Linked DNA regions of Homo sapiens. The protein of the gene in region 3 interacts with the protein of the main gene of each other region in a pairwise test. Each region holds a gene or a part of one and is shown on either strand. Other genes may lie near its edges. The genes, in order: PABIR3, ABCD3 and SUB1.

Region 1 (11,210 bases), on a different chromosome or scaffold from region 3:
GCTGGGCATGGTGGCAGGTGCTTGTAGTCCCAGCTACTCGGGGGGCTGAGGCAGGAGAATCGCTTGAACCCGGGAGGTGGAGGTTGCAGTGAGTTGAGATCACACCACGGCACTCCAGCCTGGGCAACAGAGCAAGACTCCATCTCAAAAAAAAAAAAAATAGCCGGGCATGGTGGCATGCGCCTGTAAATCCCAGCTACTCTGGTGGCTGAGGTGGGAGAATTGCTTGAACCTGGGAGGCAGAGATTGCAGTGAGAGATCACGCCACTGCACTCAGCCCGGGCAACAGAACCAATATTTCTGGCTTTGGAACCTTCTACTAAAGGTAACCTCCTATGTGAAATTAAGAAGCCTTGGCCAGGCGTGGTGGCTCACGCCTGTAATCCCAGCACTTTGGGAGGCCGAGGTGGGCGGATCACAAGGTCAAGAGATCGAGACCATCCTGACCAACATGGTGAAACCCCGTCTCTACTAAAAATACAAAACTTAGCAGGGCGTGGTGGTGCTCGTCTGTAGTCCCAGCTACTCAGGAGGCTGAGGCAGGAGAATCGCTTGAACCTGGGAGGTGGAGGTTGTAGTGAGCCAAGATCACACCACTGTACTCCAGCCTTGCGACAGAGCGAGACTCTGCCTCAAAAAAATAAAAAGGAAGCCTTAACTGAGGGGATGATTTAAACATGGACACATGAGGTGTCTCCAAAGAGATGGCAAGCAATTTATAAGATCTAGAACTGCCCGAAAGGTAACTCAGAGAAAAGAAAATTTCAAGACAGGAAATAAGAAGCTGTCCATGGAGGGAAAAATAATCAATACATGGCAAAAGTACCACAAGTATTAAACCACAAAGGACTGACTTTCAAAGCCAGGAATTGAACCCAGGCGCCATTGTGATAGGGCAAAGCCTTAGCAACTGACCTACAGCACAAGGTGACTACTGTTGTTTTACCATGAGTTTAGAGCATTTTCAAGTTTGCAAAAGGTTTTAACTGCTCAAGAGAATTTTCTAAGACTAGCCATGTTACTATTATGCATCCTTCTTTTAATTTAACCATTTTCTTTTCATGGTGCACTCAATTCCAATAGTGACTCAATCTAAATAAAAGTCCAGATAGTAATTTTCCAGGTTTTTACCACATAAGCAAAAGGTATTTCCAGAAAGGGGTAGAGGGGGCATCTCCATGATAGGCAGCATTTTAACTCAAAAGGGAAGTTTATAATACTTGCCACCTCCAGAGTTGCCCTTGGTTTTGTTTTGTTGATGACTCATGTTTGATCTGGAAGCTAGCCAAAGCAGAAAGCCCCCATTCAGCTTAAGGCCTGATGATCATCAGGGGTTGGGATTATGTCCCAGGGACCCTTTGGCCCTCCAGGGCAGTCCCATTTCCAGTGGCCGAGCTTGTGGCAGAGGGGGCAAGCCATGCGGGGGTTTTTCGTCATTCATGCCATAGGGCCAGTTTGCCTTCCAGTGGCCTGGGCTTCTGCACTGATGGCAGTTATCTGGAGGAGTATCCTTAGGGCAGCCTGGAATGGAGGCTGGGGGCTTGCAAAGCAGCCAACAGTTGAGCCTGCTTCTTGTCCCTGCATTTTTCTTTCTCCTTAGCCCTGTCCTTATCCTGCTCTTGGTTATAAAAGACTGAGGAGACTGATTTGAGGTTTTCTGCATAGGGGCCATGCTGTATTACAAAAGAAAATTCGACTTTTTTTTTTTTTTTAATCTGAGGGTTACATTTGTCTCAGCGTTTTGGGATGCAACTCATAGGTGAGTCTGACGGAATAGAGGAGGTTTGTCCCATGGTGGGACTGGAAAACGATGAGCTGCCGGGGACTAACGTCTGCTGCAGACACGAACCACACTCTCTCGCCGCCCCCACCCCCCTGCCCCACCAGGAAGAGGGCTCAACTCACATCTGCTGAGGGATTCCAGTGCACTTTCTTTTCTTTTCTTTTGAGATGGAATCTCGCTTTGTCGCCCAGGCTGGAGTGCAGTGGTGGGATCTCGGCTCACTGCAACCTCCGCCTCCCAGGTTCAAGCGATTCTCCTGTGTCAGCCTCCCAGGTAGCTGGGATTACAGGCATGCACCACTACGTCCAGCTAATTTTTTGTATTTTTAGTAGAGATGGGGTTTCGCCATGTTGGCCAGGCTGGTCTTGAACTCCTGACCTCAGGTGATCCACCCACCTCGGCCTCCCAAAGTGCTGGGATTACAGGCATGAGCCACCGTGCCCGGCCTCAAGTGCACTCTCTAAAGGGGCATCCCACCTATTAGAAAGGACATCTCAGCGCTGGGGCCTTACGCTGGATGGTTAGCCCCGGTACAAGGAAAAAGGGTAAAGGAAGAACTCAGCCTGGTCCCATCCCAGGAGAGAGGACCAGAATGGGGAGACTCACTGCTCTGAGGCTGCTTGCTATCACCTAATTTGGGAACGTCCAGAGCAGGAGGTCTGGCTGTTTTTGCAGGACTATTTAGAGTAAGAAAGAGGGGCTCTGAGCTCCCCAAAACATATGTGCCAATTGCACTACATAGGGATTGCAGACCTTTTCGCCAGAAGAGATAGGAGAGGGCCTTCTTCCCTTCTAGGCAAGGCAGCCAAACCTGTTCACACCCGCTGGCCTTGAGGCCACACCAGGAAATGGCCCTGACCAGTTGCCATCAATTGCCAGAGGGATACTAGAATTTGTCCTCTGGAAGACTGAAAAGTAAAGCAAATTCTGAAGTCTCACAGAATCGTGGGACAGCAGTCTGGTGTCTTTCCACCAGGACCTTCTGGTTCCCTGGGGAGCAGCCCCGGCCAGGGACTTAAAATTATCTCAGGGTTTTGACACTGTCCAACGAGAGGTTGGAATTGGAGGAAAGGGAGAAAGTAGGGGAGAGGCCCATACGAACTACCAAAATGTTGCAGGTGCAGCTGGCCAGTGGCGCAGGTGGTAAAGGAATTGACCAAGACAGTTGTAGGTAAAGAAAGGCAGATTTACTAGAGAAGGTATGGAAGTATGTTGCAAGGAGGCAAAGGGCAGCACTGCAGAGGAGGAGCTGTCTGCAAAGAGGCAGGGGCTGGAGGGAGCTGGAGGGGGCTGCATGTGGAAACAAGTCATGCTGCTGGGGCCACATGTGGAAGGAGGTCTTTGTGCCCTAGGTCTCTCAGAACAATTTTTCATTGTTCTTCCCCACCTGGGGCCCCTTTCTCATTGTTTCTTACTTATCTTATCAGGACTCCACAAACTCTTTTAATCCTCACCACTTGAATGGCCCTGGGGAAGAGAAGGCCATTGCATTGAAATGTAATAGTTCTGAAATTGCTTTCAAAATTCAGCCAGAAATAATAATTTTGCCTGCCTCTTTTCAATTATCCCATACTAAACTTGCCAAGGCCAATTATCATTTTATTCCTCACTGTTTATGCTTTCTGCCTGCAGTATGAGGGATTTGTAAGTACTTTTAGATAGTTTCCTTTAAATTGCCTGTATTTTTCTCCCAGCTAGATTAGAAACAACAACCTCTGTTTTTGAGCAACTTAGGTATCTCTTTTTATCTCAAGGTCTCAGCAACCCTTAAGGCCAGCCCCACCTCCTACTCCCTGCTCAAAAGAAATTATAATACATTCTTTTGTTCACAATAGCTACTAAACAATCATTTGTTGACCACATGCATGCACTGACCTCAGGAGCTTAACAATTTAGGAGAACGCGAGGAGAATAATGCTACTTTGGCCATCATTTCTAGGTTTTATTAACATCATTCTTGCCTGCTAGTTTTTTTTTTTTTTTTAACCTTTCATGTAAATCTTTTGGGAAGGTTTGGGGTGTTTGTGGTTTGTAGATTTGGGTTTGACTTGTATTTGACTTGCTCTTGTGGTAACTAAAGGTTACAACGTAGCTTCAAGGTTGTCATGACAACTGGTAAAATAAAGAGCTGATTATCACATGTTTGTTGGTTCCCTTTTATAGGTGAGGGCCTGGGACAGACGCAGCAGACTGGGATATGCAAAGAGAGGAGTAGCCTAATTGTCAAGTCTAGATCTAACAAAAGCAGTGTCCCAAGATCATGGCATATTTCCCTGGAACTGGAAGGACTGATCAAGAAACACAGCTAGGTTGGTATAATAATGTGTGCGTAGAAATGGGGAGAAGTAAAAACAATTTCTTTAATGTTGTGTTTGCCATTGTAGCATATAGAATTCTTGCTGTTTTTGTATTACTTGTTCCTTTTGATATTCCAATTTGTGTATGTACTATGAGTCCTATTTATATCTTTACAGGTTTGGGGTTCCTGACATGTAGCTGTTCTTTTGTAAAAGAGAGCTCCTTCTCTTTGATAATAGCTGTAAACTTATTACCATCTCATATATTTAGTTATTTCATATTACTCCTTTTCTTAGAAACATAGTCCCTTAGTCACTCTTCCCTTGTCATTTTATTATACCTATTTTCTTAGTGTTGTTGTACTTATTTAAAAATTAGATACTTGTAATGCTTAGGCAGGATGAAATTTTGTCTATTTATTCAAAATATACGTATGAAACCTTACTACCTGCCAAGAATACTAGCAAAAGTTGAAAATTAAAATGAACACAATGGAGGTAAGATTCCCTTGTTCACTGGCCTGCTTCATATTTTTCTGTTATTCAGACAATTTGTTTTTTGACTCTGTTCTGTCTTTAATCACTGCCTTCTGCATTCATCCTGAATTTACTCAGCTTTAACCACCATCTTTTATAAACGTTCAGGTACCCTGGGAATTTTAACAGTGGCTTTTAGGACATCTTGATACTAGCCTGAATTCTCCTGCTATCTAATTATGTGCCATTAATCTCTTTGGAATTTTATCCAACTGTAAAATAGAAATGATTTACCTACTTTACAAGATAACTATGAAAGATAGGCTATTTAAACCTGCATTTATTCATAAAATAATTTCAGAAGTATTTATCAAGTGCTTATGAGTACAGAAATTCAAGGAGATATTCTGAGGCATCTCATTTTTTTTTTTACTTAAACAGAAGGGCAGAGGAATCTTGGCTTTGCCACTTAGTAGTTGCAACTTGAGTAAACCCCTCTGGGCTTTGGTTTCCTCCTGTGAAAAATGGGCATTGTGATGGTGCCTACCTCAAAGAATTATTGTAAACTTTAAATGCAATCACCTATTTAAAGTGATTAGGACAGTACCTGGCACATAGTAAGTGCCCAACAAACGGTAGCTATTACTAATCTGTCTTATATAAGGAATGGAGACTCCACATCATCCTCATGTCTGGGATTTAAGTAATCTAATTCTGCCTAATATACTCAAGTTTGTCTTATTCTATTCCCAGAATGAACAAAGAATACATATTTATTACCTTACATGTCATAACTTGTCACGAACTATCTCAAGACTGTCCCATTATTTTAAGTTCACCACTGGGTAGCTGAGCAGGGTTGATGATTGAACCAATCCAGATAAGTATGTGAAAACATTTTGTAGGCCAGGCGTGGAGGCTCATACCTGTAATCCCAGCACTTTGGGAGGCCGAGGCGGGTGGATCACCTGAGGTCGGGAGTTCGAGACCAGCCTGACCAACATGGAGAAACCCCATCTCTACTAAAAATACAAAATTAGCTGGGAGTGGTGGCACATGCCTGTAATCCCAGCTACTCTGGAGGCTGAGTCAGGAGAATCGCTTGAACCAGGGAGGTGGAGGTTGTGGTGAGCCAAGATTGCGCCATTGCACTCCAGCCTGGGCAACAAGAGCGAAACTCCGTCTCAAAAAAAAAAAAATGTTATCCGTAAAGTGCTATACCAGTGTTATGACTATTTTAATTAATAACTCCCATTTCACTAGGTTTATTTGCCTTGTCTGCCAGTTCTCTATATGGTTACTAAAATGTGTGGTTTTACAAAATTATTAGCATGGAGTTAAGATTTCAGTACTCAGTGTGGCTCATTAAGTGATGGTGAAAATTTCTAAAAGAGTAGTTCTTAAAACGATATGAGCCATGGCAGCATTCTTAGAATGTATGTAGCTTCTAATACTACCTGAAATGAAAACACTGATTTGCATTGATACTAAATTCTGAGATATTTGTTTTTAAAAAAGCCTCACTGCTTTAACTCAAATCTTTGTAAATTAGCTGAGGTCTTTATTTTTTATATGAATAGCTGTGAGGAGCCAGATTATATATAATGTAAAAATACACACTGAGGCAGGCGCGGTGGCTCACGCCTGTAATCCCAGCACTTTGGGAGGACGAGGCGGGCGGATCACCTGAGGTCCAGGAGTTCGAGACCAGCCTGGCCAACATGGTGAAACCCCGTCTCTACTAAAATACAAAAATTAACCAGGCGTGGTGGCGAGCACCTGTAATCCCAGCTACTCGGGAGGCTGAGGCAGGAGAATCGCTTGAACCTGGGAGGTGGAGGTTGCAGTGAGCCGAGATCGCGGCCACTGCACTCCAGCCTGAGCAACAAGAGCGAAATTCCATCTCAAAAAAAAAAAAACAAAAAACTGTACGATTATGGTTTAAAAAAGAAAGAAAGAAACCACACTGAAAACAGTAATTCGTTTGCCAAATGAGCTCAGTTAGGTTAGCACCTTAGCAAGACCCTTTGGGACCAAGTGGCCTCTAAGCACTTAGGTAGCAGTATCTTTTTTTTTTTTTTTTTTTCAGACTTTTGCTTTTCTAAAATTACAAAGGTGTAGTGTGTCTGCTGTTACAGGATGGAAAAATGCATCATAGGAGGTTAGAAGCTTGTTGGCCTCAGTCATAAAGGGATAAGAAAAATGAGAATTAGGCATAGGGCAGGAAGGACCTCACTCCTCCCAACGCTTTCATTTCTAAATAATGCTTAAGGAAACCATGCCAGGGTTAGTAAAAGAGTAGAGGCACAACCACGGTAAGTGGGCATTGGGGAAAGAGGAAGGAGGGCAGGACATGGGGATAAAGCGGTTTCTTAACTGCGCGTGCGCCCCTGGCAAAGCTGACTAAGGCGCCTGAAGTGACGTCATTGCCTGCATCACAACAGGCGTCGTCCGGCTGATAGCTTATCGCAGGCTCTGAGGGGCGGGACCCAACTGATTGTCAAAGGCGGCAGATTGTAGTTTTTGTTTTGGCCGGAAAGGCTTACCATGAGTTGCCAGGGCTGAGAGAGATGGAGAAGGATTCGCGGCGGTGACAGATTAAATTCCCCAGTTACATTATAGACTTGGAGGTGGGGGATCTTCTCATCGTTAGAGGCCCCGATCATGGGAGATAGGCGGTTCGGAGCCAGTTCTGCCTAACTTTGTGTTCACTGATGTTAGGGCTGCTAGGGCTGCAAAGGTGGGCACCCCTACTCGCCTAAGAGCTTTCTCCTCTCTTCTCTTTTTCCCCTTTGCCTCTCTCCTTACATCACCTGCCCACTAAGTAGACTTGTCCTTGTGTGGACGGGAGCCGGAAAGCCTTGAGAACTTATTCCTCGACCCGGACATGGCACAGGAGAAAATGAAACTAGGTTTCAAGTCGCTGCCGAGTTCCACTACCGCAGACGGCAACATTCTGAGAAGAGTCAACAGTGCCCCTTTGATCAATGGACTTGGGTGAGCCGGGTTGAGATACTGGAGGAGGCAAGCGGTGGGGAGGAGGTGTTCGGGAAAGTGATTTCCTATAGAATTCCCGTCCCTTTATTTGTTGAGGTTCTGCAGGTAACTCCCTTGTTCCTGGTGTCCGGAGATCCCACCCTCAACCTTGGGTGGGGGTAGTGGGACGGGCTGACCTGAGGGGGAGCGCGCACCCACCCTGAGGTTGACAAACATCTGAATCTGAACATCCTCCCCTGATAGTCCACTCGGACCCGAAAGTAGCAGCCAGTTGGTGTGGAGCACGGCTTTTTTCTAACTTCAACCCATTTCTTACCCACTCCTTTGAAGAAACTTAGTATCCTCCCCCACTCACCTCCAGATCTTCTGCCATGACTGTAATATTTGTCATTTCAGCTGCTTTGTCACCTCTGACCTTCACCTCCAGCCGCTTGAATGGAAATGGTTGTCAAGCAAATAAGCTTTGGACTTTTTTACATTTTTTTTTTTGTCTTTTTTTGAGACGGAGTCTTGCTCTGTCGCCCAGGCTGGAGTGCATTGGCACGATCTCAGCTTACTGTAACCTCCGCCTCCTGGCTTCAAGCAATTCTCATGCCTCAGCCTCCCTAGTAGCTAGGATTACAGGCGCCCACCACCACACCTGGTAATTTTTTGTATTTTTATTTTTTATTTATTTGTTTATTTATTTTTGAGACGGAGTCTCACTCTGTCGCCCAGGCTGGAGTGCAGTGGCGTGATCTCGGCTCACTGCAAGCTCCACCTCCCGGGTTCACGCCATTCTCCTGACTCAGCCTCCCAAGTAGCTGGGACTACAGGCGCCCACCAACACTCCCGGCTAATTTTTTGTATTTTTAGTAGAGACAGGGTTTCACCGTGTTAGTCAGGATGGTCTTGATCTCCTGACCTCGTGATCCGCCCGCCTCGGCCTCCCAAAGTGCTGGGATTACAGGCGTAAGCCACCGTGCCCGGCCTAATTTTTTGTATTTTTAGTAGAGACAGGGTTTCACCATGTTGGCCAGGCTGGTCTCGAACTCCTGGCCTCAGGGGATCCGCCTGCCTCAGCCTCCCAAAGTGCTGGTATTACAGACGTGAGCCACTGCTCCTGGCCTACACCTATTTTTTATTGGAGCAGAAAGTTTTGGTACCACAGAAGCTTGATCTCCTAAATTACACATTCTCACTGGGTGATACTTCCCCCAAGGGGAAGAGAAAATAGTTCTTGGGGGAGTGTGAAAAATTTTTACTCTTTTTATGTATAAAGCGCAGATATACATACAGTATGTACACAGATATATACTATATATGTGTTATTAAAATTTCACGAAGGGGGAGCAATTAGGGGAAAAATGTCTAAAAAGGCTTTTTAGAGGGTCAATAATGAAAAAAGGATTTAGAAACACTACACTAAATGATGGTTAACTGTATTTCTGAAGATCTGGGATTACTAAATCTTGTTTCCTTTTTTTTTTTTTTTTAAGACGGAGTCTCACTGTGTCGCCCAGGCTGGAGTGCAGTGGCATGATCTCGGCTCACTGCAACCTCTGCCTCCCGGGTTCAAGCGATTCTCCTGCCTCAGACTCCCGAGTAGCTGGGACTTCAGGCACCCGCCACCACGCCCACCTAATTTTTTGTATTTTTAGTAGAGACGGGGTTTCACCGTGTTAGCCAGGATGGTCTTGATCTCCTGACCTTGTGATCCGCCCACCTTGGCCTCCCAAAGTGTTGGGATTACAGGCGTGAGCCACTGCGCCTGGCCTAAATCTTACTTCTTAAACTAGACTTTTAAAATGAGATGTTGGATTTCACATTTCAGTATTATAAGGTTTTCTAGATACCGTAAAAATGTCTGAAAAATGCATTCACTACATATGTTACTAACTTTGCTCTTCACCTTTTGTTGCATCATACTAATTGATAGTTGTAATTCACAGTACCATAGACTATCAGGAAGGGATTCAGAGACCAGCTTTACCCTCCTTGTTTAACATATGAGGAAACTGAGGCCCATAAATCTCCAAAATGACGTTTAGTGGCAGAGCCAGTACTAGGAAGCTCTGTTTCCTGACTCCTAAACTACTGTTCTGGCCACTACTAACCAATACCTAAGCTGATTAACTCTAAATGAATGCAGCTTTTGGGTCATTTGAGGTAGGAGAGAATATATTGTTCACAAAATGAAAAGCAAACTAAGATTGACCAAAAAAAAATACATTACCTTTTTAAAATAGGCAGGTAGAAAAACATAGAAGGGGGACTCTGCATGTTGTGCTGAGAACAAGAACATTTTATTCACTCAGGATTTTGCTCTAATTCTGTTGTGGGAAAAAGGAATTATGGGACCCACTCTACTAGTAGAAGAGAGCAGTAGGGAGAATGTTGGATTTATTGAAGACAATATAAAAAGAAGAAATAGGTTGCAAATAGACGATGGAAGATGTGTACTGGAAGGAACCTGTGGATCCTCTTTAATGTATTAAATACACCAGAGAAGGAGTGGACCCTTCCCTAATCCTTAAAGCCCTGGAAACAGAGAGATCTCAGTTATCCCTTCATACCTTGCTTTGTTCTGCAAAGGATTTTTTTGTTTTGTTTGTTTGTTTTTTGCTTATATTAGAGCATAGCTACAGTGTTACATTCCATAGCTTAAGATCCTGATGCATGAAGTAAAATTTGTACAGAAAGATAAGGGTCACTAGCATATTTCTGTAGTAGGAGTTTAAAGATACAGAAACCACAAAGTGGACGGAGTCCAGGGACTCTAGTCTGTCAGAAAGAAGTAACATAGGAATGATGTGTGACATCCCTGAGATTAGGGGACTTGCCCAGATGATCTGAGGGCATATTTTGTGCTGTTGTAGAAAATGTAGGGCATAGTCAGAGAAGTTATTCTGAAGCAAGAAAAATTTAGAGTAGGATTACACTGAGCCTTAGTTGAATTCATTTTCACCTCAGTTCTCATTTGCATATGTATACTGCTCACTTTTCTCCCTTTTTTTTTCCTTCCTTGGCCCTCTAATACTTGAGTACTTCCTCTTTCTAAACTATACCTGGCCAGTAAAGCATTCTTTTCAGAAAGGTGAAAGTCACTAGCATATTTCTTTAGTAGGAATTAAAGATATAGAAACCACAAAGTGGACAGAGTTCAGAGACTCCAGTCCCTCAGAAAGAAGTAACATAGGAATGATGTGTGACATGCCTGAGGTCAGGGAACTTGCCCAAATGATCTGAGGGGATGTTTTGTGCTGTTGTAGAAAATATTTAGCTTGCTAAACATTGTTGCACCTCTTTCAAGTAATTTTCGAACTTTGCTTGATGTTTCTTCTATATAAAGACCCTCTTGCACCAGCATTTGCAGAATTAAATTCCTTAGGTTTGTTTCTTTCATATCAACTCTTTAATACAGTATTACTGTTTTAAAGAAGTATCTGCACTGTTTTATGTATATCTTGAACTAATAAAAATTCCAACGTCAAAAGTTTTGAACCTCTTGGTTCTTTATACTCTTTATCTCTGTAATTGGCTGACTTTATTACTGGTGTCAATAACTATACTTAAAGCTAGGAGTTTTTTCTTCTCTTTCTCTGACCCTTATTCAAAGACTCAGAGATTAGGTTCTTGTATTCCTGCCAGTGCCTCCCTACCTTAAAAACCTCTAC
Region 2 (10,549 bases), on a different chromosome or scaffold from region 3:
AATTGGCCCACTGATTTCCCACTACCCAGGTCAGGTTATATATGCTCAGGTACACAACTATTACTTCTGCAAAAAGAATGTTTCTATTCATGTTTGTACTAGGCATCTCCAAATGCCTGTCAATTACGCTTAAAAGTTCTTCAACTATCCTATGTCATTTATCCTCTCTATAAACACTGTCTAACCCATGACAGAGCCGAACTAGGGAATTAAAGATGACTCAGTTCATGCCCTCAAGAAACTCAGGATCTGATGTAGGCAAAAGCCAAGAAAACAAACTAGTACAATACAGAATGGTAAGTGCTAGAGTAGGGGATACCTAGAGCAGTAGTCTCCAACCTTTTTGGCACCAGGGACCAGTTTTGCGGAACACGATTTTTCCACAAATTGGGGTTGAGTTGGGGGATGGTTTCAGGATGAAACTGTTTTGCCTCACATCATCAGGCATTAGATTCTCATAAGAAGTGTGCAACCTAGATCCCTCACATGTGCAGTTTACAACAGGTTCACGCTCCTATGAGAATCTAATGCCCCTGCTGATCTGACAGGAGGCGGAGCTCAAGTGGTAATGCTCGCTTGCACAGGCTGTGCAGCTGGGTCCTAACAGGCCACCAACCTGTACCAGTCCACAGCCCGGGGGTTGGGGACCCCTGGCCTACAGTATCATAAAAGCAGAGGACACTTACATCAGTTTGGAAATCAGAAAAAGACAGAAAACACCTAAGACAAAGTGTTGACTGAGTCTTGAAGAAAAAGAAGTATCAGCTGGGCAAGTTGGCTCATGCCTGTAATCCCAGCACTTATGGTTGGATGAGTGGGAAAAGTAGGGAAGGACCACACCATGAATACAGAAAGTTTGTATTTTAGAGTAGATTAATGATTTTAATGAAGGAATATTATGATCATATCTGAGCTTCTTAAAAAGAGCTCTGGTGGCAGTGGAAGATGGATTGAAAGGGCACCACAAAGTTTCTTTCTAACATAAATGCAACAAAAATCTGATAAAGGATGCTGTAACAGTCACTTTATTCCAGTTATCCACTCCTACCCCCTTTCTAGGCTTAACACACATCCTTCATGAAGCCTTCCCCAACCCTTCCCAAACACATTAATCTTGTCTTTCTCAAAACTTCTAAGACATGTCTATCTGTACATTTCATTCTGCTATCAGTGTTTAAGTTTCTTTTCCCTAACAAGAAGGTAAGCTCCCTGAGAAAACAAGTCATATATTTTTGTAATACACACACACACACACACACACACACACATCTTATAGCTCCCAGTACAGTAATATAACATTCTGAAATAGACACTTCCTTTAAATAGCCCTCTTTATCCATGAGTAAAAAGATTCTTCTTTTCCCCATAAATAATAAAATAAAAGGTAAGATTAGGCAAACTAAGGTGAAAAAGTTAGCTTAGCAGTGCTGGAATCAGGAGTGAATACAAGCTGATCAGGAATGAATACAAAGGAACTTTCTGGTGGGATAGAAATGTTCTAATTTGTCATAGGGATGTGTTACATAGTGTATCCATTTGTTTAAAAAATGTACAACTAATATTTGTACATTTCAATGTATATAAATTTTACCTAAAAAACCTATAAAAATAAGGGGTGACAGGCAGGTTGAAATAGATGAAACAAGAATATAGAATGTTGTTGGTACTCCTTGGGTAAAGTGCATTGGGCAATCCTTGTATTATTCTATTTATTTTTTATATGTGTGAAATTTTCCACAATAAAAGGTCAGAAACACACACACATATATATGAGATTTAACTGAGTGAAAAAAATTACATTAACAAAAATTAAAAGTAACCCAGAACATTTAATTACTCATTCTCCCAATGTTTGGAATAATGTTACACTGTAACTTTTAAAGTGATTTTACTAGCTCTATTACCTATCCAATTCTAAGGGAATATATATTCTAAAACCAACCTACTATTAACAACATAGACAAAAGAAGGCCAAGTAGCCACAGTTTCCTTAATTAAGCACCAGATATTAAAATTAATCAGTTCTGTTACCAAAGATATTCAAAAGCCCACTCAAATATAAAGTTAGAATCTTCTAATCTTCAAACTGTGATACCAAAGGTGGTGACTAAAAGATATTTGTAAGCTTCTGGAAGTACAATATCTACAAAAATACACTCAATACCATTTTTAATGGTTTCAAAATAGTTCAATCATTTCACCTCAACAATTTAAACTTCATGATTATCTGCTCAGAATCTGCAATCTCCTCCAACAAAATACTGTGTAAAATAGAGATTTTCCCCACTCATCCCAATGCAAAAGACTAATAATAATCTTTTGTTCAGTACATCTCCTGCTAAAGAATTTAATCCCCACAAAAGCTCACAAAGTTTCTCAAAAAAAAATTTTTTTAGGCATTTTACAATGGCAAATGAGGAGCTAAAATTATTTAATAAGACAAATTCTATTACATTATTTTACTTCTATCGCTACTATTTCCCAATAGATTCTGTTTAAAATTTCCCTTAGCAATAATCTATGGTCTTACAAACTGGTTTAGTAGTTAGGTGGACTGTGACTGGATGGGGGCATGAGGAGAATTTCTGGGGTGCTGATAATGTTCTGTTTCTTGATCTGGGTGCTGATTACACGAGTGTGTTCTACTTGTAAAAATTCTTCAAGCTCTATGTGTACTATATGTATGTGGCATGTATGTGATACTATATCACATATACATATAATCATAAAAGTAATCCAGAACTTGTAGGGCTGTCCTCGAGTCCCCTCCTCCATATTAAAACACCTGTTCTATGCCCTGAAACACTTCTTTGCAAAAACAGAATTCAAGTTAAAGGACCTAACATCTTCTTTCTACTGGCATGTTCCCAGGTAACAGGTAACTTCTATTTGCAACTGGGAGTTCATACAAACCAACAGAAAAACTTGCTTTTTATTTTCCCAAATTAATCCTTTTAAAAGCAAACTGAATAGAAGAAAAATGAGTAAGCGCTGTTATTGCCCAGACTATGCTGCAAATCATTTTCAACTCTGTTAAATGGATTTAGGAAGGAAAAGAAAGATCATCACTTCAGACTCTAGTAAGATAAAAACAGAAGGCGGCTAGAAAGAACTTAATGGAAAGGGTACTATAAACTAGAAGTCTATTTGTGTTTTAGCCCAAATTTTACTACTAATTAGATATTGTAGGCAAATCAAACACGGGAGGCAACAGTACCTGCTCAGAGGAATGAATGAAATAAAATTCATGAAAGTAGTATGTCAAGATTTAATACGAAATATTCAATGACTGGCAAGAACGCTTGGGAAGTAGCCTTTTCTCTTTCACTTGTCCAGCAAATAAAAATTGCATGTATGTGACATACATACCTGTATGTCGCAACCGTAATTCAGCTCTCTCTTTTTTACTTTTTCTGAACTGATAACCTCCCAAAGTTAAATCTAAGCACTGAAATTCTCCCGCGGTGGAAGCAGTGGCGTGTCATTAAAAAGGAGCTTGATCCTCACCTAAACCACACTCTCATCTTTCACCTACAGAGCCCAGGAAGGAAAACATTTCCCTCTAAGTCCGACAGAACCGATCCAGCCTTTCCGGATGAAATGCCACCGACCAAATGTTCACCGACCAAAGGGTTCACCGACTCCAAGGGCTCACCACTTTAGACGGCAATCCTGCCAAGTGGACCGGGAATAGTTTCATAGAAGCCACCCTCGCGACTTTCAATAGCAGTTAGTCGGGAATCGAGCCAAACCTCGTCCAAGTGACTTAGACACCAGCCTCCAGCCTGGCGAATCCAATCCCCATCCTCAATCACACATCCACGTCCCCAAAACAAATCCTTCACGGTCTGAAGATGAGATGGCAAAACCAGAACACACCCAGAAAGTTGACACAGAAGGGGGTGATGTAGGGAAGGGGGTGGGGGACACACCGCATCCCCCTCCCACCCCCAACTGGAGGCCGCTGCCTGAGTGCTGGCTGGGCGCCGGTTCGCCCGCGGGCACAGAAGAATTCGCACTCCCGGGGTGGAGCGAGGTCGCCGGACAGGCCAGCTGGGACCGACGCCGTCGTGGCGGGGACTCGCGGACACCCTGACATTGAAGTCCCACGGCAGTCGCGGTCGGCCCTCTCTCCGCCCGACCCCGTCGGGCAAAGAGACCTGTCGGCCGGGTGGGGAGAGAGAGCGCGCGGGGAGCGCCCGCTCCAGCCCGGGAAAGCTGCACGGCTACGGGCCTTCTTACCCGTGCAGGCCGAGGGCGCGGCGCCGCTTGTGGAGCAGGCAGAGCAGCAGGAACGCGGCACCAGCCAGCGAGGAGTTTCGCGCCGTCAAGTACTTGCTGAAGGCCGCCATGGCACTGCCGGTACCAGCGAGCCGGCGAGGGGACGCGGCGGCGGCGGCGGCGGCGGCTACCTTACTGCACGCAGCGCGGGGGAGACTGGGAGGAGAGCAGAGGGCGGGGCCGGCCGCGCAGGACCGCCCCCTGGCTCGCGCCGCCGCGCCGCCCGCGCTCTGGAGCCCACTTTGTACTTTGGCCCGGCGGGAGCGCGCTCGGCAGCCTCCGTGGGCGGAACAGTTCCCGGGACGCGCTCTGCGCACGCGCGGACTCCTTCAGGGTCTCCGGAAACGCGGCGCGGAGGAGCTGTTGCTACTCAGCCCTGCGAGGCGTCAGTGCTGCCCCTGCCTCACCCCTACCCTCCCACTCTTCGCGCGCACACCCCGGCTTTCACAATAACTGGATGAGCGGGCCTGGCCTGCAGCGACGACCTAGTGGGCCCTGCCTCTCCACTCCCGCGGTGATGTACCGTTACCACCCTCTTAAAGGAGCCCAGGAAGGAGGCGGACGGCCCCGTCACAGAGCGTGTAGGGAAAACACAGCACAGTGATTATCAGGACGAAACCAAACAATCGGAACTCCGCAGAGGTGTAGGGAGATGTGAGGAGAATGACACAGATCAAAGAGCTTTTTCCAAGCCAGTATTTTCCAAACCGCGGGTTATAATCTCTAGCGCATTGTGAAATTGGTTTGGTAGATCGGGATCATCACCCTCCGTTTTTAATAAAATTGAGAATAGAACAAAATAGAAAAGTTTCACAGTACATCACGTAGTAAAGGAGTTGTTTAGAGAAATTTCGATTTCAGTGTTTTGCACGTATGTATCGCCAGCGGCGATGTAAAATGTATGCAGATCTGGTCAGAAAAAAGTTTGAGAAACACTGTTCTTTGCAAAGGGACATTCAGAAGTAACAATCGTGCGTTGTATTAATGCTGGCCTCACTCCCAGAATCAGAAGGGCTTTGCAGATTACAACATTCTTCTCCTGTCTGACCCTATGTTGCAGGAATTGTTATCGCCAGCATTGAGCCTAGCATATATACAGTAACAGTGAATCGCTGTTTTCAGCTGAGGAAACTGGAGAAAAGCAAGTGTGTCAGAAAATAAGCTCATAAAACCTCGCATAATGCACATACATATTAAAGTAGCCTACAAAGTAGTGGTGCTGTGCCCTAGGTGTTTTCTCAATATAAATGAGCTGTTGCCTAATACAGGTTATGAGGATCACAAAGACGAGGTACAATAATGGCATGCGTATAGAGGTGCTCAACAGTGAATTCTAAATTATGCAGAACTGAAGCTCCTACTAATTCACTATTTGTCATGTGGACATTTTCATTACCTGGAGGGACAAAAGGTTTTGGCCCTCTGAAAGTTAACTGAAAACCGCTGACATAAGGCAGATTAATAGAAGAAAAAATTAATAGGAGAAAAGGCATACAAATTTAATGTGTATACATGGGAGCGTTCAGAATGGAGACCCAAAGATACTTGGAAAATTGTCCATTTTTGTGTTTAGGTTCAACAAAGTATGGACAGCTATGTAGAAATGTGATTGGACAAAAATGGTATAATCTAATGCTAACAGACTGAGTGGGGACACCCAGCAAGGCCTGTCTAGATTCTTCTTGGCCTTCTGAGCACCATTCCTTCCTTCTGGGTATAGGGCAGGAATGGAATGGAGCTCTTAACAGCCTACAGTCAAACAAGGCAGGTCAGATAATTTCTTTATGGCCAGATTTTACAGAAAAAGGGGGAGGGAAAACTAGCAAAATATGTTTAGGCTTTTATGGCTGGCTTTAGGGGATAGAGGTTCTGGTTTCTACATCTTGTCTTGAGGAATAGGGATCCTAATATCTATGGCTAGCCTAGGGAAATACGGGACTGAGAGACAGGAGGGCCAGAGTAGGGCAGAGAACTTTTGCTACTGAGACCTTCATTTTGGAGTATTGTGTTGTGAGCCCCAACGACCTCACATAATTTACGTAATTAAGTATGCCTGGCACAGATAACACAAGGATGAACAGATCATGGAGATCATATTCTCCAGAGGCTGTTAGAGAAGAAAAACGTGTAAAAAAAATCAAGTATAAATGTGGTAAGTACTATATTAGAGATATGAACAAGGTGCTATGAGAACACAAACATGAAAATATTTAGTTTTGTCTAATGCTTTCAATAAAGGCTTAAGGCTTGACAAAGGTGATTCTGTAGCTAAATTCTAAAGGACCGCAGGAGTCACTCAGGAGGACAAAACAGGAAATTACTAATTCAGTAATAAAGTGCTAGAAAAGAGTTGGGAACCTTGTGAGAAAGTAACGGTATCATCTTAGAGTTTGTAACAGTGAAGGAAGTACAAGCAAGATTAGTCAAAAACAGTCTAGAAAATAGATTTCAAAACAGTCAGAGGAAAGATAGAAATGATCTATTGACAAAACATTCTAAAAGTTACCCTTGTTCAAGAAGCATGGGAGATTCTAAAAAATTACACTAGTTATTCGAGCTCAAATAATTTTAGCTATTGATAAAGCCCATCTGACAAAAATCACCAGGACCAAATCTGGAACCCATTAAGTTTATTAATTTGCTACAGCAAAAGATACTATACAGCAGAGGAATTGTGGCCATGTCTCAAAAAAAAGGAAGAAATAAGGAGTCATTATAGTATTTAGAGAAAGAGAGGAGTTTAGGTAAAATCTAAATAAAGCAGTGCTTGATAGGCCTAAAGCAAATCAGATCTGTATGTAATATCAAACCTGGGCTGAGAAGCAGATTCAAGATTCTAGTTCTTAGAAACATACATTTAAGATTAATGTAGAATATTGTGTCTGAAAATCCCTTATCTGAACTTCTGCACTGGAAATGGAGACTGCTTCTGTAACTCTAAGTGACTCAAAGAGTTCAAATCTGCCAGGCAAGAAAGGGATGTTCTGTTCTCACTGATAGAATCTCAGAACAACAAACTTTCTAACAGTCTAGGATTTTAGAGAACAAAATTCCTCAGCACTATGTCCTTTGATAATTAACAATGCAATTTTGCAAGTTCACACTTCATAATATTAAATAATAAAGAAAAACAGAAAATGTGATTTTATGGGGGAGATCTCCAAGAGCTCTGATTTTTAAAGAATTTGAGCTACTGAGAACAGGTAGGCAGGGCATAGGAAGTTAGTGAATCTAGAAAGCCTCTGGAAGAAATGTTGTGTTAGCCAGACTCCAAGATTGTCCCTGGTGATCATGGTGTCCTAATATTTATGCCCTCATGGAATTTCCCTCACATCAGAGCTGAGTTTTGTGACCAAAAGAGTATAATGAAGGTGATGCTATGTGACTTCAAAGGCCAGATTATAAAAGGCACTGTGGCTTCTGCCTTGGTGTCTTGGATTGCTTGCTCTTGGGGAAGCCAGCTGCCACAGAGAGCACTCAAAGTGCCCTGGAGAGGAACTGAGGCCTCCCACCAGGAGCCAGACCAGCTTGCTAGCCATGGGAGTGGGCCATCTTGGAAGCAGATCCTCCATCCTCAGTCAAGCCTTCAGGTGACTGCAACCTCATGAGTAATCTCAAACCAGACAGCTCAGCCAAGATGCTGCTAAATTCCTGACTCGTAGAAACTGTGGAAGGTAATGTGTTTATTGTATTAAGTCACTAAATTTGGGGGTAATTTATTATGCAGACACTGTGACCTTGAAAAACAGATGGAAAAAAGAGGATTCCGAAGAAGATACAACAGGAGCAAAGATGCAGAGACCGAAGCAGATTGAGGAAGGTGATTAAGTCTGATGTGGATGGAGGCTGAGGGAGGCATGTGAAATGAGAGAAAAGTTTGCAATGTTTAACTGAAGTCAATTTGTGGAGGGTCTGAAACACCAATCCAACCGGGTAGGATTTTTATTCTGCATGTAGAAAGGTGTATTGCAGGTCTGGGGAAAGAGTAGTGACCTCAGGATTTATTTAAGAAAGATCATGCTAGTGGCAGTGTGTAGAGTGGGCTGAAGGAGGAACCATCAAGCAGAGGGACCAGTTTGAACACATGAAATAGTCTAGGTAAAAGGTAGTGACCATGTGAGTCAGGGCAGCACAGATCAAATAGGAAGAAAATGACTTTGTGGATTCACATAAAATGGAAATAGGTGAAATAATTAATTCATAGGAAGAAAATTTTTACATTGATTCTGATATTGCCTTGCTGAGTGTCTAAGAGGGTGATACTATTTACCCAAGGTCGGAGACACAGAAGTGGTACATGCTCATCAGGAAAGGTAATGAGATGCAAACAAATTCCTTACTAGTTTCTCATCACCAAGATAAACTGCAATAGCCTTAGCATCTCACACAAACCCAGTGATGATATAAGCTCTGCCTACCTCTCTAACTCCTATCTTGGCACTTCTCCCCTCCTACAGATATATTCTACCCCTACCCCAGGAGATAGATGCCTGCTATTCACTTCTGTAGTCTTCCCTTGAATATCCTATTCCTTCTACCTGAATCCCTTCCTACCCTAACATCCTCACGTTCAACTCAGTTTATCCTTTAAAACGAAGCGTTCATGGTCTCCTACTCTGAACAGTCATCTGTGACCAGTCCCCCCTAACCCCTTCACCCCATTGCCAAGTTAATTATTATCTTCTTTGTACTACTACTGTTTCATATATAATTCTATTAATATGTAGTAGGGTGTCTGGGGAGGCAGATCTTAAATTTTTTTTAGAGACCTGCCAATCATTTCTCTGGAAAGGTAAACACCTCAAGTCACTGAGAACAAATCATCTTTGCTCAGAAAAGAGTCACTTGAAAAGCCCCTCTTACCAATTAGAAATGGAAGGAGAATAGGTACCCAACTGCACCAAGGAAAGGACATCCTGACAAGGCTGTTTCTTCAAATAGCCCTAGTTAGCCCAAGCTGGCATTGGGGAAGTTTGCATAGGAGAGCCTCCTGGGAGGAAAGAGATTGAGATCTCAACCTCTTCCTTTTTGAGGTTCACCACTACTAGACTTTCTGATGGACTCAGATAGTCCTGTCTCACTAGATCAGGGTCCCAAAGAGGAATGTACTCCCTTTTCCTCCCAACTGTGTCCGCATTGCATCCTGTTCAGGCTTCTGCCAGAGCTCCCGTAGTGTTTATTTATTTAAATTGCAGTAACTATCATGAGGGAAAGAGCCAAATCTTATTTTTCTTTAATCCTACATAATCTGAAAAAAAAATTGAATACATACCTCATACTCCCAATAAAATAAAAAGGATAAATTCAAAATTGCTCAAAGAATGAATTTTTTAAAAGGAAAAAAAAGATACCATAAAAATATTAGAAGAAAAGATGGCAGAATTTTTTATGATACATTTATCTTATAATCTTGGCATGGGGAAGACCTTTCTAGGTATTAAAATCCAGAAGCCATAGAAAAAATAAATAAATAAATTTCACAACTTAAACATTTTTTTTGTGATTAAAAACAACCTGTAAACAGGGTAGAAAGAAAACTGTAAGGGAAAACTGCACTTATTTTTACAGATAAGTGGTTAATTTTTCTAAAAGTACCTTAAAATTAGTAGGAAAAAGGCCAAAAGCTAAATTTAAAAAATGAGCAAATAATGATATAGCTCACACAATAAAAAAATTAAAATGGCTCTTAAACATATGAAAGGATTACTCTTATCATAGAGATACAAAATAAAACTACACTAAAAATCAATTTTTATCTGCCAGATTGGCAAAGACCCCAAAGTGTGGTAACACTGTAATTTTTGATTACTAGTTCTGAGAGGCAGGTAAATAAATATGAACTCCAGAAGAACAACTGGGCAATAGCTTTAAAATAGTTACAAATGCATGTACCTTTTGACCCAGAATTCCACTCCAGGGAATTGACTCTGCAGATGTATTCTCACATAAGTAAAATATCATAGGTATAATGCATCTTTGTAAGAGCAAAGAATTGGGAACTTTTCTAAATGTCCATCAGTGGAGGTCTGGATAAACAAATATAATGGAATATTATACACTCATTAAAAGAATGAAGCAATTTTATATGAACTGATATGATTTTCAAATATAATATTAAGCAGAAAAAAGCCAGGTGCGGAAGAATATGCAAAGTTTATCACCATTTGTAAACGGAGCTAGTGGGGGAAAGTAATATATACTTATTTGCTTATAGATGAATAAAATATCTTTGGAAAAATACTCATGACATTGATAATACTACTTGACT
Region 3 (10,488 bases):
CTCATTGAAGCCAAGCCTACATAACACCAGGTGAACACTGTTGCTGGTTTCTTCCTCTCTGTCTCTAGGCCTAACACTCCAGGGTTTAGCAGGGCAGGAAAGGAAGAAGGAAAATTATTTTTCCCAGCTTCTTCAAAGCCTGTGAAGCAAGGATTTTTTTTTTTTTAAGACAGAGTCTTGCTCTGTCAGCCAGGCTGGAGTGCAGTGGTGTGATCTCAGCTCACAGCAACTTCACCCTCTCTCAGCTCACAGCAACTTCACCCTCTGAGGTTCAGGGGATTCTCCTGCCTCAGCCTCCCAGATAGCTGGGATTACAGGCATGTGCCACCACACCCAGCTAATTTTTGTATTTTTTAGTAGAGATGGGGTTTTGCCGTGTTGGCCAGGCTGGTCTTGAACTCCTGGCCTCAAGTGATCCACCTGCCTCAGCCTCCCAAAGTGCTGGGATTACAGGTGTGAGCCACCGAGCCCCACCCACAAGGCTTTTTATGCCTTAACTTTTTCTCACATCACTGCATCTGATGGATATAACTCACACCCTACAAAGAGTAGGTGCTCCCTGTGTCTCCTCTTGGGGAGAGTGTATATTGCCCCGTCTTAGTCTGCTGTAATAGAAATAACATAGACTGGGTGGCTTAAACAACACTTATTTTATTCAATTGTGGAGGCTGAGAAGTCCAAGATCAAGGTGCCTGCATATCTGGTGAGGGCCCACTTTCTGGTTTGCAGATGACTGCCTTCTTGTTGTATCTTTACATGGCAGAGAACAGAGACAGAATAATTAAGCTCTCTCTTGTCTCTTCTCATAACAGCATGAATCTATTTATGAGGGTTCCACCCTTATGACTAAGTATGCCCCAAAGTCCCCACCTATAATACCATCCCACTGGGATTAAGGGTTCAACATATGAATCTGGGGGAAAACACAAGCATTCAATCCATAACAACCCTCTTACCTTGTACTGTCTCCCTTCCCAGTTCTTCAGACTCACTAAACTGGAGGATGCCCAGGTTTTTGTTTTATTTGTTTTCTCTTTTGCATGTATGATCCACATGGCCCCATCCTAGGTGTTCCTAAAACCTCTAGACATCCAGAGCCACCATATCTTTTAATATCCAAATTGAATGGTTGGTGCTACCATTCCATGTGCCGTGGGACCTCCAGAATTCTTAAGTTTTCCCAAAATAACCTGGAAGGAGTTATGTTCTCCTAGTCATTCACGCTGTGATCTGCTTTCCTGCTTTAGCCTGGAGGTTAAACCAGAGGCGGCTGACCTCCCTAGGTGCCCACCACATCCCTGGCACATAAGCCTGTTCCTCTCCCTTTCTTTCTTGTTTCCTCTTCTTTGTATATTACTGGTATGTCTCTTGTGCTACAAACTCAGGCTCTCAGGAAATGTGACTTTCTTCATTTTCTTATGATTGTGTTTAATGATCACCATTTCACCTAGTGGTAAAAGCTTAATTGTGGCCAATTTCAGGTCAAACTCATAATTTCTCCCTTTCCCCCTTTCTCTCCTAAATTCTGGACAGAGGTGGGGTAGGATTACATGGTGTCAGAGCACTAAGGGTAGTGGTAGAGTCTGGCCCATTTTCCCCATCTGTCCATGACAGCCGCATTAGTCTGTTCTCGCATTGCTATAAAGATTTACCTGAGACTGGGCAACTTATAAAGAAAAGAGGTTTAATTAGTTCATGGTTCCACAGGCTGTGCAGGAAGCATGGCTGGAGAGGCCTCAGGAAACTTACAATCATGGTTGAAGGAGAAGGGGAAGCAGGCACATCCTACGTTGCTGGAGCAGGAGGAAGAGAGACAAGGGGGAGGAGCTACACACTGTTTTTTTTTTTCGTTTGTTTTGTTTTTTAGATGGAGTCTCGCTCTGTCGCCAGGCTGGAGTGCAGTGGCATGATCTCGGCTCACTGCAACCTCCGACTCCCTGGTTCAAGTGATTCTCCTGCCTCAGCCTCCCAAGTAGCTGGGATTACAGGCATGTGCCACCATTCCCAGCTAATTTTTGTAGTTTTAGTAGAGACAGGGTTTCACCATGTTGGCAAGAATGGTCTCGATCTCCTGACCTCGTGATCCACCCTCCTTAGCCTCCCAAAGTGTTGGGATTACAGGCATGAGCCACTGTGCCCGGCCGGTGCTACACACTTCTAAACAACCAGATCTCGTGAGAATTCACTCACTATTACGAGAACAGCAAGAGGGAGATCTGCCCCCAGGATCCAATCACTTCCCACCAGCCCCCTCCTCCAACATTGGGGATTACAACTCAACATGAGATTTGGGCAGGGACACAGATGGAGACCGTATCATTGGCCTTTGCTTAACAGTTCATCTTGTCTGATTCTTGATCCTTCTCACTTCTTCACACTGGTATTTGTTGAGATGTCCTTTGTTACAGCACTCTATGCAAGTTGAGGGTGGTGAGATTTCCTCTTCCTCACTGCAAGTCCTCCCCAGGTCTGCTGGCTGTCACTGACACATCTGTGCCACTCTTGGCCAAAGAGAAAGACATTCCCCTGAATGCTGCAGTACCCTGGGGCATCTCTGAACTCGGTGAGGAAGCCTGAGGTCGGCCATCCTGACACACCACACAGATATCTCTACCCCAACTCTGTGGTGGAGGGAGGGGCGCTTGGGTTGCAGAGGAGCTCGGAGAGCTCGGCTGCCTGGAAAGCAAGGCACCAGTTTGCTTTGCTCTCTCAGATCCCTAAGCCCTCTGGGAATTTGATGCTTCCTTCCTTCCCCAGGGCTGGTGTGGGGACAGACAGCAGAACTACTTCTCTACTCCTTAGACACTGAAGAGGGGCCTCATCTCCTTTCTCTTCTGACTCCTCCCTTTCACAGTTGCAATAATCTCTACAGGCGAGTGGGGTGGGCTAAAAGGAACTATTTTTGTTTGTTTGTTTTTGAGACAGGGTCTCAAAAACACCCAGGCTGTCACCCAGGCTGGAATGAATGCAGTGGCGCACTCATGGCTCACTGCAGCCTCGACCTCTCAGGCTCAAGCAATCCTCCTGCCTCAGCCTCCTGAGTAGCTGAGACTACAGGAACTTACCACTACACCCAGCTGATTTTTTTCTTTTTCTTTTTCTTTTTCTTTTTTTTTTTTTGAGATGGAGTCTGTCTCTGTCACCAGGCTGGAGTGCGGTGGCATGATCTTGACTCACTGCAACCTCTGCCTCCTGGGTTCAAGCGATTCTCCTGCCTCAGCCTCCTGAGTAGCTGGGACTACAGGCACGCACCATCACGCCCAGCTAATTTTTGTATTTTTAGTAGAGACGGGGTTTCACCATGTTGGCCAGGATGGTCTCGATCTCCTGACCTCGTGATCCACCCACCTGGACCTCCCAAAGTGCTGGGATTACAGGCGTGAGCCGCTGTGCCTGGCCCATTTTTTTGTATTTTTTGTAGAGACAGGGTCTCACTATGTTGTCCAGGCTGGTCTGCAACTCCTGGGCTCCAGTGATCCACCCACCTCGGCCTCCCAAATTGCTGGGATTACAGGCAGGATCCACAGCACCCAGCCAGAAAAAAACTTTAATAGCACATTACCTTAAATCTGTAATTTATGCCTGGAATCCTAATAGTTTAAAAAAGTCAAAAGCCAAGAATCTGGTCTGTGTGTTCTGGTCTAACATCCTTCTTCTAGTCAAATGCTGTAGCTGAGAAAACGGGGGATGGGGAAAGAGTGAAGGTCAGAAAGCAGGAAGTGCTAGTAACAAAAGCCACATTGGGTAAGATTTCAAAATAATATCCTGATACTTGAATAAGCCTTTTTCGGAAGCTTTGAAAGAAGTGAGTAACGGAGGGTGTCGACAGCATAAGGCCTTGGAGGGAACCGCATTAACAGTCCCGTGCCATACTCCAGGCCTCCAGGAACTTCTTCCTGGCAGTCTCCTCCTCAAGCTCTGTCCCTTTCATAGTTTGTGAGCTATTTCCCTTCTCAGCCCTACTTCCCAGTCTACCTCCCTTTCTGGGACACCTACAGATTCTCCAAATTCAGCACATTCCTTTTTGTGCCACCCTCTTCTTCCAGACCAAGGCTTGGAGTGGAAAGTGGGAGTTCTTTCACTTTTAAAGATGCCCTCTAGGAATTTGCCTATAAAAGGAGCTATTCCCCACCCCACAATGTACAAATGCATGTGAATTACACCTCCTTCCCATTCTATTATTTGAAAGCAACTGCTGTCTTTTTTTTTTTTTTTTTGAGACGGAGTTTCGCTCTTGTTGCCTAGGCTGGAGTGCAATGGGTGTGATCTAGGCTCAGTGCAGCCTCAGCTCACTGCAACCTCTGCCTCCTGGGTTCAAGCGATTCTCCTTGCCTCAGTCTCCCGAGTAGCTGACATTACAGGTGCCCGCTACCACGCCCGGCTAATTTTTTGTATTTTTAGTAGAGACGGGGTTTCATCAGGTTTGCAGGCTGGTCTCAAACCCCTAACCTCAGGTGATCCACCCGCCTCAGCCTCCCAAAATGCTGGGATTACAGGCATAAGCCACCACGCCTGGCCCCTATTTTGTTTAAAATAAAAAAGTTTCCTTCCTCTTTCATCTATGTAAAAAATTATTTTTGTTTATTTTCTTGAGTTATGTTTACCTTTTAAAAATGGGCAACGCTTAGGATCAAGGATTTTCGATTAGTTTTACAAAGTACCACACCCAGGAAAATTGAGCCAACAAATTTGCATGCAAAGTTTCAGGTCTCCCTACTTCTAAAAATGCATACCTCCTTAACAGCTCTCCACCTCCGACGCTTAGAGAACCGAAACCCAAACCTACAGCAGGCACACTGCCCAGGTTCCCTCAGTGACACAGAAACTGAATGAAAACTTGTTAAAGCAGGAAGGGTTGCAGATGGAGGGGATACCATATTAGTTTAAGTGTACGTGGTTTACCTTGAATATTAAGCATTTCTTTAGCTAGGTGTGGAGCTGCGCAGTGTCCCATGACAATGCATAATGTCAGTGTTTCTTTTCTTTTTTTTTTTGAGACGGAGTTTCACTCTGTCATCCAGGCTGGAGTGCAGTAGTACAATTTCAGCTCACTGCAACCTCCACTTCCCAGGTTCATATGATTCTCCTGTCTTACCCTCCTGAGTAGCTGGGCACACGCCACCACGCCCGCCTAATTTTTGTGTTTTTAGTAGAGACGGGGTTTCACCATATTTGTCAGGCTGGTCTCGAACTCCTGACCTCAGGCGATCCACCCGCCTCGGCCTCCCAAAGTGCTCGGATTACAGGGGTGAGCCACCGCGCCTGATGTCAGTGTTTATTTTCATGGCTTCTTTTATTTCATTATGATGGAGAGTTTCACAACAAACTAAGGGATTAGTTTGTATTTTTGTCAGCATTTAATCCTTTAAAAGTCAGGTAATTCTAGAAAGGGACGTGTGGGGGATGCTTTCACGTTTAGTGTTCAGACTTTGATTCCATCCGCTGTGTTCTTTGCGTCTCAACCCCATTACACATTCCGCTCCCAGCTTTAATGTTTGCAGGGAATATATAACTCTCTTCTCCTATAAGGGTGGGATGGGTGGGAACCACAGGTCTAACTGCTCCATATGTAGATCCAAACACTCCTCCCTTTCTGCAACCCACTGCCCTTCCTTAGCCTCTGTGGCATCTCCGATGTGCAATTCTGAGCTTCGACAGGATTCCATCCTCTACTTTGTAAAATCCCATACCATTCCTCTACCTGAGGCAGGAAAATAGGGTCTGGAGGGAGAGAACATAAGGACAATTCACGCTTCAGCTGTAACAGGAAATATCCTCTCCATAGGGCGTTAACTTTGGTTTCCTCGTCTATAAAATGGAGAGAACAGTCATTTCTGCTTTGGAACATGCTTGTTAGGATGAGTAATGTAAATTGCCTCCTGCAGCGTCTGACACGTAGTGGGTGCTTGATAAATCTTTGTTAATAGATATGCCTTTATATTGATTCTTAGCTGTAGGAAGTATTCATTCAAATACATATTCAAATAATCTTTTAGCTATATTCCTGCTTGTATATGGATTCCTCTTGCCTTCTGTGAACTCCCTTACATCTCCAGGACTTCAATACAGGAATAAGGAGTACTCCAAAGATTTCTTGCACTTTCTGGAATTAAACGCTGTGACTTTAGCTTCCTTCCTTTGGATTTTAGGAGGCAGAGGCATGTATTGAGGTGGGTGAAGTGGGGTAGGAAGACCATTTCTGGGAAAATGGGCCAGAGTATTGATCTTTTTCATTATGACCCCTTCGCTTCATTAGAGTAAACATTTATTGAACAAACGCAAAGCTTGGCGCTTGTCACTCATGTTTTATTGGCGTTTTCCTTTTTTTTAATTTTTTTTTAAGCTATCTCCTACAGGAAGGATATTAGCTCTTTCATTCTCTCAAGGGTCAGATGTAATCTTCCAACATCTGACTTTCGCGTCACCCATTTAGGAAGAGACGCGGTCCCTTTAAGGCCCTGGAAAGGGTCTAAGTGTTGGTTTCTGTGGGGAGGCCACGCCCCATCACGTGACCGCAGCCCCAGCGCGGCGGGGCCGGCGTCTCCTGGCTGCCGTCACTTCCGGTTCTCTGTCAGTCGCGAGCGAACGACCAAGAGGGTGTTCGACTGCTAGAGCCGAGCGAAGCGTGAGTGCGCGGGACCCCCTACCCCTACTCCTCGGGGCCCCCACCCTCCCAGCCGGGCCGTGAGCTGCCTTCGGCCCTCCACTCCTCTCGCCGGCAATGGCCGCGGGAAATGGCGGCTCTGCCTTACCTCCCCCTTCCCCTCGGCGTCCCCGGCCCCCTTCTCCGTTTCTGACTCCACGCCTGACGCGCTGTGGGCCCTTCCGCGGTAGACTCCTGTCCCCGGGGAGCCGAGTCGAGGCGGCGGGCGCTGCGGCCCGGGGCGGTAGATTGAGGGCGGCCGGGGAGTGAGGAGTCGCGGGGAGAGAGTCGCGGCGTCCCCGGGACAATGCGGCGGCGGCCTGCCTAGGTGGGGCGCGTGCGGTTACCTACTCTTCCCCCGCCCCTCGCCCTGAGCGGGGCGCTCTGGAGACTGGGAGAGCGGATGCGGGCGGGAGGGGGCCGGGGGAAGAACGGCTGATGTGCAGGGGGAGGGAACGCTTCGAGAGAAGAAAATGGCGCTTGGTGCAAATCCCGCCCCTTCCCACGCCGTCTTCTCCGCACTTCGCCGCCTCCCACGCCCCCTCCGACCAACCTGTCTCCCCTCGCCCGAGCGGCTGCTAGCCACGGGGTTCTAGCGGCTTGCTGGGGCCGCGCGACCCCTTCCCTGGTCTTGTGCTTGTCACCTTCCTGTTATACCGAAGTCGTGTGCCCTTCAGTCCTGGTTCATTTTCACCTCGTTTTTTTCTGATCTTTCCCTCAATCAGCAAAGGCTGAAGATTTCGTTTCTCTTTTTAAAGTTGCGTTTTGTATAAATTCTACAATAGTGGTTTCAGTATCAGTTACTTGAATTACAAGCTGCTTCTCCCCCCACCCCCACATTGGAACAGGCTCATTAAGGTAAATATATATTTGTTAAAAGTTTAGAGGCTGGTTTTAGTTACCGTTACCTTTCTTCTCCAGTGGACTTCTTTGGGTTGAGTACCAGGTGGTTCTTTGAAAAATTCTTAGGCCCCCAGGCAGTTTTTGATAACAGACGGTAGTTATGATCGACAGTTTCAAAGTGAAAAATTATGTTCAATTTAATTACCTTTTTAAAAAATATCTTTTTGTCGTATTAATTAGCATAAAAAACTTAACTAAATTGATTTTAGAGATGAGGTTGCAAAATGGAGCAGAAACAGGAAAAACGGATAAAACGTGGTCATGAACATTGCTTTTCCCTTCTGAATTTACCCTTGAAGACATTACCAGTTAAAATCAGATTGAGCTTTTTGAATTTAATGGCTAGGATTGGGGTGGCCCACTTCTTTTTCCTTGACCTCCTATTTTGGAACATATGCAATGTCAGTGCTAATGCAAGTTTCATCTAGAGAGCTAGATTATTTATGATTTTTTTTTAAGGAGGAATTTTAAGTCTTTTTTTCTTGTATTAAACAAATACAGTGTGTGATGTGTTTATTAGGCCCTTTAACGCATACAGAAATTAGCTAATTTATGCCTAGTGTTCCATTATTGGAACGCTAAGCATGTGGGAGTTATTTATGTGCTACTGCTCAAGATCATCGCCAAGGTCTGCTTGCATAAATTCAAAAAATTGCAACCTCTGGCATAAATGGGTTAATAGGACCTAATCTCTTCTGAGATGGGGAGAGCAAAAGATATTTTGATAATCAGCGTTTTATGACCTGGTGTTATAAGTGCCTTGAATAGAGGTATCCACGTATCTTGGAATTCCTTGAAATTTGGGGCTTAGGCTTACTGATAGTTTGCTTTCTGCAAACTTGCACTCAGGCACTCAGTAAACACCCACTTGTAAGCAAGGCACTAAGTTATCTATGTCTCTGGGGGGACCTGGGAAGTTACCAGCATGGTAGGAATTTGCGGGAAGGTTTTGCACCTCCCATAAATAGGTTTTGCACCTCCCATAAATAGGTTCTTCAAATTTTAATTATGTTCCAGAGTAGAAAAATCTGTGTAAAATGTAATGAATTGCTGTGAATTGTGTAAGATTTTTTTTTTTTTTTGAGATGGAGTCTTGCTTTGTTGCCCAGGCCGGAGTGCAATGATGTGACCTTGTGTCACTGCAACCTCTGCCTCCGGTGTTGAAGCGATTCTCCTGCCTCAGTCTCCCGAATTGCTGGGACTACAGGTGTGCCACCGTGCCCTGTTAATTTTTGTATTTTTAGTGGAGATAGGGTTTCACCATGTTGGCCAGGCTGGTCTCGAACTCCTGACCTCAGGTGATCCGCCTGCTTTGGCCTCCTAAAGTTTTGGGATTACAGGCGTGAACCATCGTTCCCGGCCTGAATTGCGTATAATTTTGTGTACTCTTGAATTAGTACCTGTCGTTATTTTGGTGATACGGCCAAAAAGTCAAAATATGAATAAAATATTATGTAAAAATTAATTAGATGTCACATTTGCATAGTACAGCTAGTTCCCTGTTGTGTAAATGTTGGGGTCAGTTCCCCATAGTGAATAATTTTACGTTAGTTCCAATCTCGTTGATGAGAAGTCTAAAGCAGTAATAGTAGAATTACATTTCTTCTGGTTTTAATAGTAATTGTTGTCTGCTGCCTTCTTGCAGTTTACCCTACCCATAGTGTGTAATGCCATTAAAACGAAGTATAGAAAGATCCATTGGCCTGGAGAAAGGTTAGAGGTGTAGGAGTGTATGACATTTAGTTCATTGTTCTTACTGGGTTCAGCACATTGCACCCTGCGTGTTATTTGCAACTTAAAAGGGTATAGATTAAAACTTGTGCTCAGTGTAACAACTCAGTACCACAAAAATGGTAGAATGAACCGTGGAACTTGTCCTTGATTTTTTTCTTTGATTGGGGGAGAGCTAAGTTGAAAGTAGTAGAGTACCTTATTAATTATTTTTGTAATGTATTTTTCTTTCAGGATGCCTAAATCAAAGGAACTTGTTTCTTCAAGCTCTTCTGGCAGTGATTCTGACAGTGAGGTTGACAAAAAGGTGACTACTGCTGCACCAAGTCATTTTGGTGATACTCAACAATATTGTCCATATCCCATTCTGAAGGATAGTAAAAGGTGTATTAACATCTTAAAATGAGGATCTAGCTGGGCGCGGTGGCTCATGCCTGTTATCCTACTTCTTTGGGAGGCCGAGGTGGCAGGATTGCTTGAGGCCAAGAGTTCAAGACCAACCAGGCTAACATAGCAAGAACCTGTCTCTTTAAAAAAATAAATAAATAAAAAATAAAAAATAAGAATGTGAATGGGTATTTCTGGAGGTACGGTTGGTCTCTGGACCACTTGACTAGAAGTGCCTAGGATGCTTTTTGCACATTCATACTCATAGGCCCTAAATCAGACTTAACAAGTCTTCTGTTGAGCATCATTAGGAACCCTAAAGTTGCAGAAACACTGCCTTGCATCCTAGGGTCATAGAATTCTAAGTAGGCCAAAGTCACTATTTGCCGTTATTTAGAAATTTACCAGATTTTTTTTTGTAAAATGTTAATTTTTTTTTTTAAAGACAGGGTCTTACTCTCTTGCCGAGGCTGGAGTGTGGTGGCACCATCATGGCTCACTGCAGCCTCGACCTCCTGGTCTCAAGCAGTCCTCCCACCTCTGCCTCCAGAGTAGCTGGGACTACAGGCATCATGCCTGGTTAATTAAAAAAAAAATGTTTTTGTAGGGACCAGGTATTGCTGTGTTGCTAAGGCTGGTCTCAAACTCCTGGCCTCAGGCAATTCTTCTGCCTCAGACTCCCAAAGTGCTGGGATTACAGGTGTGAGCCATCATGAGTGGCCATAAAATGTTAATTTTGACAGTTCTCTTAGTTACTGGTGTTTATTCTGCACATAAGGTTTTCTGAATTTTAGACTTGGTACATTTTTAAGTTTGTACTAAGT

The links.
Region 1: the proteins of SUB1 (region 3) and PABIR3 interact in binary tests that used the Homo sapiens proteins (3 or more experiments, as listed by UniProt).
Region 2: the proteins of SUB1 (region 3) and ABCD3 interact in binary tests that used the Homo sapiens proteins (3 or more experiments, as listed by UniProt).

The regions. Positions count from the first base shown.
Region 1 is NC_000023.11:134,800,155-134,811,364, forward strand, and holds the start of PABIR3 (PABIR family member 1), read left to right. Parts: upstream 1-7,082; 5' UTR 7,083-7,187; exon of another isoform or gene 7,188-7,385; coding exon of another isoform or gene 7,386-7,444; coding exon 7,445-7,554; intron 7,555-9,032; coding exon of another isoform or gene 9,033-9,219; exon of another isoform or gene 9,220-11,029; intron 11,030-11,210.
Region 2 is NC_000001.11:94,412,282-94,422,830, reverse strand, and holds the start of ABCD3 (ATP-binding cassette sub-family D member 3), read right to left. Parts: upstream 4,443-10,549; 5' UTR 4,353-4,442; coding exon 4,243-4,352; intron 1-4,242. UniProt on the Homo sapiens protein: Broad substrate specificity ATP-dependent transporter of the ATP-binding cassette (ABC) family that catalyzes the transport of long-chain fatty acids (LCFA)-CoA, dicarboxylic acids-CoA, long-branched-chain fatty acids-CoA and bile acids from the cytosol to the peroxisome lumen for beta-oxydation.
Region 3 is NC_000005.10:32,579,001-32,589,488, forward strand, and holds the start of SUB1 (activated RNA polymerase II transcriptional coactivator p15), read left to right. Parts: upstream 1-6,556; 5' UTR 6,557-6,625; exon of another isoform or gene 6,626-6,971; intron 6,972-7,368; exon of another isoform or gene 7,369-7,501; intron 7,502-9,511; 5' UTR 9,512-9,512; coding exon 9,513-9,584; intron 9,585-10,488.